2 linked regions of the Homo sapiens genome follow. The protein of the gene in region 2 purifies or fractionates together with the protein of the main gene of each other region. This does not show direct contact. Each region holds a gene or a part of one and is shown on either strand. Other genes may lie near its edges.

Region 1 (3,826 bases), on a different chromosome or scaffold from region 2:
CCAATCAGGTTGGGAAGATAAATAAAACAGCATAGTTTATTTTAACCTATATCTTCCACACTAACCTAGTTTGTCTATAGAAAAGCCATCTGCTGGCACCAGGCCAGTATGTCTTAATTTTCTTGTTATTCTAAGTATCTCATTTTTCCAAAAGAGGAAATGTGTAAGTAGCAGGTGTACATAGGTGACACATTTCTACAAAGCCTTCTCTGTAGTCTTGACCTGTGTGGGGACAGGGTCTACTTTTGGAAGCATTTTCAAAGGCAGAATAAAACTTTACTTGAGGTTTTCTCCATAGAAGGACACCAGAGTTGTGCCCATATGATGAGTCCCTCGTTGGTGTTGAATAAATTGTCTTTTCTCCAGGAAATAACCTTTGTTCTTTCATATTTACAGGTTTCTTTTGATGGACAGATGGAGTAATCTCCAAAACAAGAAATGGGGCAGAAGCAGTTTCTTTTCTGATCATGTCTCTGATGAAATGATAGGTCCTAGACTTTTCTGATACCTTGTATGGTGTGGGGAGGGGCTGGGCTGTGTCCTGGGATGGATGTACAGGCTGCTGTCTGGACCGGGGCTGTTCAGAGCCCCGTGGCCTTTTCCTGATGTTCCCTGCGCATCCAGCGCATCCACACTTTCAGGAATAATCATCTTGAGGAATTTCATCCCCAGCTGTTTAAATCAGAGTTCCATTTGCTGGAAAACAGAGAGAACCTAAATGAATTAACCCTTGGCTTTTTGGTATAACTTTTAACAAACATAATAATTCCATCATTCAGATTTCCAAATAGAGGCCAAGACGTAGTTTTATGCCCACTTGGTCTCCCAAATCTCTTGTTCACTGTGAATCTGTCTACTCCCATCACTTCCTCAGGAGCTGCAGAGAGAATTGTGGCAGACTAGAAGAGCAAAAGCTCATGACCAATATTACAGGCCAACATTCATAAATGCAACTTAGCATAGCTTTTTCTCCTTTCCTCTTCTGGAAGTTTTTAATCATGTCCCTGAGGTGGTAAGGAGCTTAGGAAATTAAAAGTGCACAAAAATGTTATCTAACAAGGAGAGGGAAAAGCAAAAGGTAAATGAAGAAAAGATGGAAACTCAATGTAATTCAGTTTGATATCCAATGCAGGCAATATAAGGGTCAGCAGAAAAGGGAGGCTGGATTCATGGGGTTTCTCAAAGCAAGGAGGACCCAAGGGGGAAAAAAAAGCAATTTTGGTGATTTTGAATGTAATAGTAAGAACTTCTTGCTCCATTGTAATTCCAGGGATCCCAGAATTACAATGGGATTCAGCAATATGAGTACAATTTAATTTGGAAGCAAGGCAGGAGACATAAGTCACTCTTTGAAACACAGATGGACTTATATAGCTGAAGTGGGTAAAATAAGGCTCCCATTAGCATTTCATTTGGAGAAAAAAGCAAGGAAGATGGAAATACCTAATTATACTTTAAAAGAAAGAAAAAGAATGTGTGAAGATGGTTGACGGTTTCAGGTCCTCTGTAAAAAAGGTGGCTTCTTCCTTCATATAAAACACTGTCTGGAGGATCAATTTAATTTATAATTAGGGAGATGAGAACGAACAGGTAAATGAATTGTTTGTTCTTTGTGGGTGTCCCCCCTGCTGTACATGCTCATCCTCCTCCTCTCTGGAGGTGTAGGTGGGTGGGGTCATTTCACTAGTGTTGTCTCAGTTAGGCCTCCATTCCTACTTTCCTTTGAAAGCTGTTCTTCTTGTGTACTCAACCCAGAAAATTCCAGGCCTATTGTCCTCAGCCCTCACTAGAGTCCTAGATACGCACCGTTTTATTTTCTTTTTTTGGTGTAAAGATTCAGTTAAAAAATATCTTCCTTCAGACATCTGCTGACTACAGGAAATTATTGTCATAGCCCATGTGAAGGTCATAATGAGACTAAGATGACGTTTTAAAACTCCTGAACTCTGTAGGGAAAAGCAAGTAGAAGCTATTATTCTTACTCGCTGGTAACATACTGTAGATAGCTCCAGGACTGAGACCCGAGGCCCGGAGGACACACTTAGTGTTCTCCCTATGTCACAGTCCTACAGGCCAGCAAAAGTGAGTACAACTGTCCCAGCATGTCAGTTACACATACTGGCCCTAAATGTTCAGCATAATTTAAAAGGGAAAGAAAAAAGTTGGCTTTTCAGACAAAATTTTGTGTGAACTGAACAACGTCAGACTATGCTTCTTTGGGTCCAAATAATTTTAACTTTACAGCTCTCAGATGTTCTGGCAGCTCATTCTTTGTTCATTTCACCTATTATACAAGTGTTTCTGGGTCCAAGCCACAGAGCAAAATAGACACAAATAAATCAAATAATAAATGTTTCATATAAAGGAGAAAATGCTAATGGTCTGTTATCTATACCAGCAGTCCCCAACTTTTCTGGCACCAGGGACTGGTTTCATGGAAGACAATTTTTGCAGGGACCCAGGAAGTGCGGGGTAGTGGGTGGTAGGATGGCTTTGGGATGAAACTGTTCCGCCTCAGATCCTCAGGCATTGAGGAGCCTGCAACCTAGATCCCTCACATGTGCAGTTCACAACAGGGTTTGTGCTCCTATGAGAATCTAATGCCGCTGCTGTGACAGCGGGCGGAGCTCAGGTGGTAATGCTTGCTCACCTGCCGCTCACCTCCTGCTGTGCAGCCCAGTTCCTGACAGGCCATGGACCAGTATGGTCCGTGACCTGGGGGTTGGGGACCCCTGATCTACACTACTGCACTGTAGGCTCTAAGGGAACTTAAAAACAGAAAAATAATGGAGAGAAGGTGTTTGTAGAACACAGACATGTCAGCAAAGGCACTGAGTATCTACTCCTGAGTGGTTACCTTTCCCTTTCCCTTCAGTTGCTCTCAGCCATGCTTTCGGTGTCACAATCTTTTGGTGGTTCTCCTCCTCCTGGCAACTCACTCTCGATTTCCCACAGGACATCGTCTTCCTCCTCCAAGTTGCTGGAGATATGGCACTTCTTGAACCCTTGGACGATGGACTCACTTGAGATGCTATTCCACGCGACCATGACCCACTCCAGAAAGAGGCCCAGGGGTGGCTTCTTAGCATTCCCGGTTGGGCTCAGCGCCAGGTTCCCAGCCAGAAGCCAGTTGGAGTACTGGGCCCGCACACTGTCATTCAGTGGCTTGTAGACCACGACATCCAGCACCTGAAGCTGTGAGGTCAGACCCCCTGGGATGATCACCATGTCAGTGTTCATGCTTTCCATGGAGTTCTTCACGGAATCTGTGGCATGGCCCCGGAAGCCATTCAAGATCAGCATCCCTCGCTGCTTGGGCACTGCTCCTGTCCTCCGTCTCCACACCACTTCCAACCAGTCCTGCATCAAGTCTTCAGTCATCCACCCATACCGGTGGCAGCGAATTTCCATCCCACTGGGAAACTTCCCCGGGGGGATATATGTTCCCCTCAAAATGATGTACGGTGGTAACTTCCTCCCATCAGCCAAGACACCAAGCATTGCTGTGATTTTCAGTTTTTCCCTGCCTGGTGTCTTGACCAAGACAGGCTTTTCGCCCTGGTTATCAACAGTTACCCGTGATGGCACCTCTAAACAAATGGGCGTCTCATCTGCATTCCCCATCTGAGCTACCTCATAGTCATGCGCCCTGCGCAGAGCCAGGACACTGCGCTGGTAAGTGACGAGTTTCTCAGTCAGGTCTTCCGGCAGGTGCTGGGGCACGGGCACTTTATGCCTCAGAGACAGGTCATACCTTCTCATCATTCTTCGACACCAACCCAAGCTTGCCTTGAACCCTTTCTCTGGAATGTTCATTTCCTGGGCG
Region 2 (3,614 bases):
CAAAGAAAAAGAACTAGCTTCCTAAAACAATGCTTCTAACTAAATATCTGCAAATATGAAGACATACCCTTCAACACAAACATCTTCAGCCCTCAAGCTGAACAGATGCTGACATTAGTATTAGCCTCCTGCAAAGAGTCAACATCTTCAATCAGAACCTGGGTCTTCCAACATAGATGAAGGTCTTGATGTCCTGTCAAGATTCAAGTTAGCCTGAGGTCTCACTGTTTATCTATGATGCCACACATCTAGTCACCTCTACACATCACATTAGGCACCATACAGCAATCATCATTGTCATAACCATCGTAATACTTGGGTTATCAAGAGAGAAGAACCAGAATTGTGGTTGGTGTTAACACATTCTTTCAGGTCATTAGACAAAAGTAATCTGAGTATTGAAACAAGAAACTGTAACATTATAGGTGATATATACGATGTAGATAGGCCTGCAATGGTTGGGTCTGTACTGAACACATATAGATTTTTTTTCTTATGATTCCCTAAACAATACAACTATGTACACAGCTTTTACAATGCATGAGATATTTTAATTAATCTAGACATTTATAGAGTATACAGGAGAATGTGGGTAGGTACATGCGAATATTCCATTTTATAAAAGAGCTGGCATCTGTGGATTTAGGTATACTCAGGGTGTACTGGAACCAATCTTCTTGCATATAGCAGGCAGCAACTCTATTTGAAAGAAATGGAAACTTTTTTTTTTTTTTTTGAGATGGAGTCTCGCTCTAGCACCCAAGCTGGAGTGCAGTAGTGCAATCTCGGCTCACTGCAACCTCCACCTCCCGGGTTCAAGGGATTCTCCTGCCTCAGCCTCCTGAGTAGCTAGGACTACAGGTGTGAGCAACTATGCCTGGCTATTTTTTTTTTTTTCCGTATTTTTAGTAGAGACAGGGTTTCCCATGTTAGCCAGGCTGGTCTCGATCTCCTGGCCTCGTGATCTGCCCTCCTCGGCCTCTCAAAGTGCTGGGATTACAGGTGTGAGCCGCTGCGCCCAGCCTGGAAACTTCTTAAGGCTTTACCACGTTTACATTCACAGGATTTATTTCTTTCAAGTATCTGAATGTGATAAAACCAATGAATGCTTTCCCACATTCCATACACTTATAGAATATCCTTCCAGTGTGTCCTTTTATGTCTATTAAAGGAACTGAGAGAACTGAAGGCTTTCCCACATTCCTTACATTCATAGGGCTTCTCTCCAGTGTGAGTTCTTTCATGTTCTCGACAGAAACTGGAACGACTGAAGGCTTTACCACAGTGTTTACATTCATAGGGTCTTTCTCCAGTGTGAGTCCTTTCATGTCTTAGAAGGAAAGAGGGCCAAAAGAATGCTTTCCTGCATTGCTTACATTCATATGGCTTCTCTGCCGTGTGAGTCCTTTCATGAGTTTTTAAGTAACTGAAACGACTGAAGGCTTTGCCACAAATTTGACACTCATAAGATTTTTCTTCACTGTGAGTCCTTTCATGGCGACAAAAGTATTTAAAAGAACTAAATGCTTTCCCACACTCCTTACATTCATAAGGCTCCTCTTCACTGTGTGTTGTTTCATGACTTTGAAAGGAAAATAAATCACTAAAAGCTTTTCCACATTTACATTTATAGGGTTGCTCTCCAGTGTGTGTTGTTTCATGTTTTCGAAGGGAACTGGAAGTACGGAAGGCTTTCCCACATTGCTTGCATTCATAGGGTTTCTCTCCAGTGTGAGTCCTTTCATGTCTTTGAAATACACTAGGAGAATCAAAGGCTTTCCCACATACTGTGCATTTATGAGGGCCATCTCCAGTGTGTGCCATCATGTGTCTTCGAAAGCTTGAGCGATGAGATAACAATTTCCCACATTGCTTACATTCATAGGGTTTCTCTAGAGTGTGAGTTCCTTCATGAATTCGTGCTGAACCAGGAAAATCAAAGCCTTTCCCACATATCTTACATTTATGAGGTCCATCTCCACTGTGCATTATCATGTGTCTTTGAAAGCTTCCAAGATGACAAAACGCTTTCCCACACTGTTTACATGTATAGGGTTTCTCTCCAGTGTGAATTCTTTCATGTACTCGAAGGGAACCGGAAACACTGAAGGCTTTCCCACATTGTTTACATTTGTAGGGTTTCTCTCCAGTGTGAGTTCTTTCATGTCTTAGATATGAACTGTAATCAGGGAAGGCTTTAGAACACTGCTTACATTCATACGGTTTCTCCCCAGTGTGTATTTTTTCATGTCTTAGATAGGAACTGTAAACAGGGAAGGCTTTAGAACACTGCTTACATTCATATGGTTTCTCTCCAGTGTGAGTTCTTTCATGCATACGTAATAAACTGGGCCAAAAAAAGGCTTTCCCACACAATTCACATTTATAAGGTCCATCTCCACCTTTTACTACCATATGTCTTCGAAGGTTTCCAGGAGAACTGAAGGTTTTTCCACATTCCTTACAATCATAGGGTTTCTTTCCAGTGTGAGGCCTTTCACATGTTTGAAAGGAGTGGCGATAACTTAAGCCTTTCCCACACTGCTTATGTGTATATGACTTCTCTGCATATTCATGACACTCCCGGTGTTTGTGTCCAGTATCAACTCTGATGTAGCAATTCAGGGATGAATGACCCATTATGACTTCTCCATTCACACTGCTTCCACATGCATCTACTCTGGCGGGAGTGTTCTTGTTTACAATACTATTTCGAATCTGGCTTAAGGTTTCTCCACACTGACTACCATCTTTACTTTTACCAAATCTCTCTACCACATCACACCTGTAAAAAATGAAAAGTACATTACTAAAGGTTTATTATTGAATTTATATTTATCAACAGGTATTAGATTTACATTTTTAACATTATCAGGCAAGCTATAAGCTTCATGTCCTGCTTCAATGTGAATGGACTGAATGTTGTGCAAGATAACTCAATCCCAGCTATTTTCAAGACAATGATATGCACATGGGGATTCTTAATTCTTTTTTTTTTTTTTTTTTTTTTTTGAGATGGAGTCTCCCTCTGTCATCAGGCTGGAGTGCAGCTGGTGCTGTCTCGGCTTGCTGCAACCTCCGCCTCCCAGGTTCAAGTGATTCTCCTGCCTCAGCCTCCCAAGTAGCTGGGACTACAGGCATGCACCACCACACCCAGCTAATTTTTGTGTATTTTTAGTAGAGATGGGGTTTCACCATGTTGGCCAGGTTGGTCTCGATCTCCTGACCTCGTGGATCCACCCACCTCGGCCTCCCAAAGTGCTGGGATTACAGGCATAAGCCACTGCGCCTGGCCTTTTTTTTTTTTTTAAGACAGGGTCTTGCTCTGTCACTTAGGTTAGAGTGCACCAGTGCCATCACAGATCACTGCAGCCTCAAACTCCCAGGCTCAAGTGATCCTCCTGTCTCAGCCTCCCAAAGTGCTGGGATTGCGGGCATGAGCTACCACACCCAGCCTCATATGGGAAATCTTAATATTGTTTCCATGGGAACTACTTTGCAAACACTGAATAGCTATGTCACATTTAATAATATATTTATGTCACATTTAATAATATATTTTTATAGAGAAATTTTTCTAAGAATAAATAAATTTAAGCTGGGCTTGTTCATAA

What was found.
Region 1: the proteins of ZNF44 (region 2) and POGK purify together in Homo sapiens (affinity purification with mass spectrometry; one large-scale study listed by BioGRID and IntAct). This does not show direct contact.

What each region holds. Positions count from the first base shown.
Region 1 is NC_000001.11:166,849,455-166,853,280, reverse strand, and holds part of POGK (pogo transposable element with KRAB domain), read right to left. Parts: coding exon 2,872-3,826; 3' UTR 2,858-2,871; exon of another isoform or gene 697-2,857; 3' UTR 1-696.
Region 2 is NC_000019.10:12,271,279-12,274,892, forward strand, and holds the end of ZNF44 (zinc finger protein 44), read right to left. Parts: intron 2,788-3,614; exon of another isoform or gene 2,786-2,787; coding exon 1,129-2,785; 3' UTR 530-1,128; downstream 1-529. UniProt on the Homo sapiens protein: May be involved in transcriptional regulation.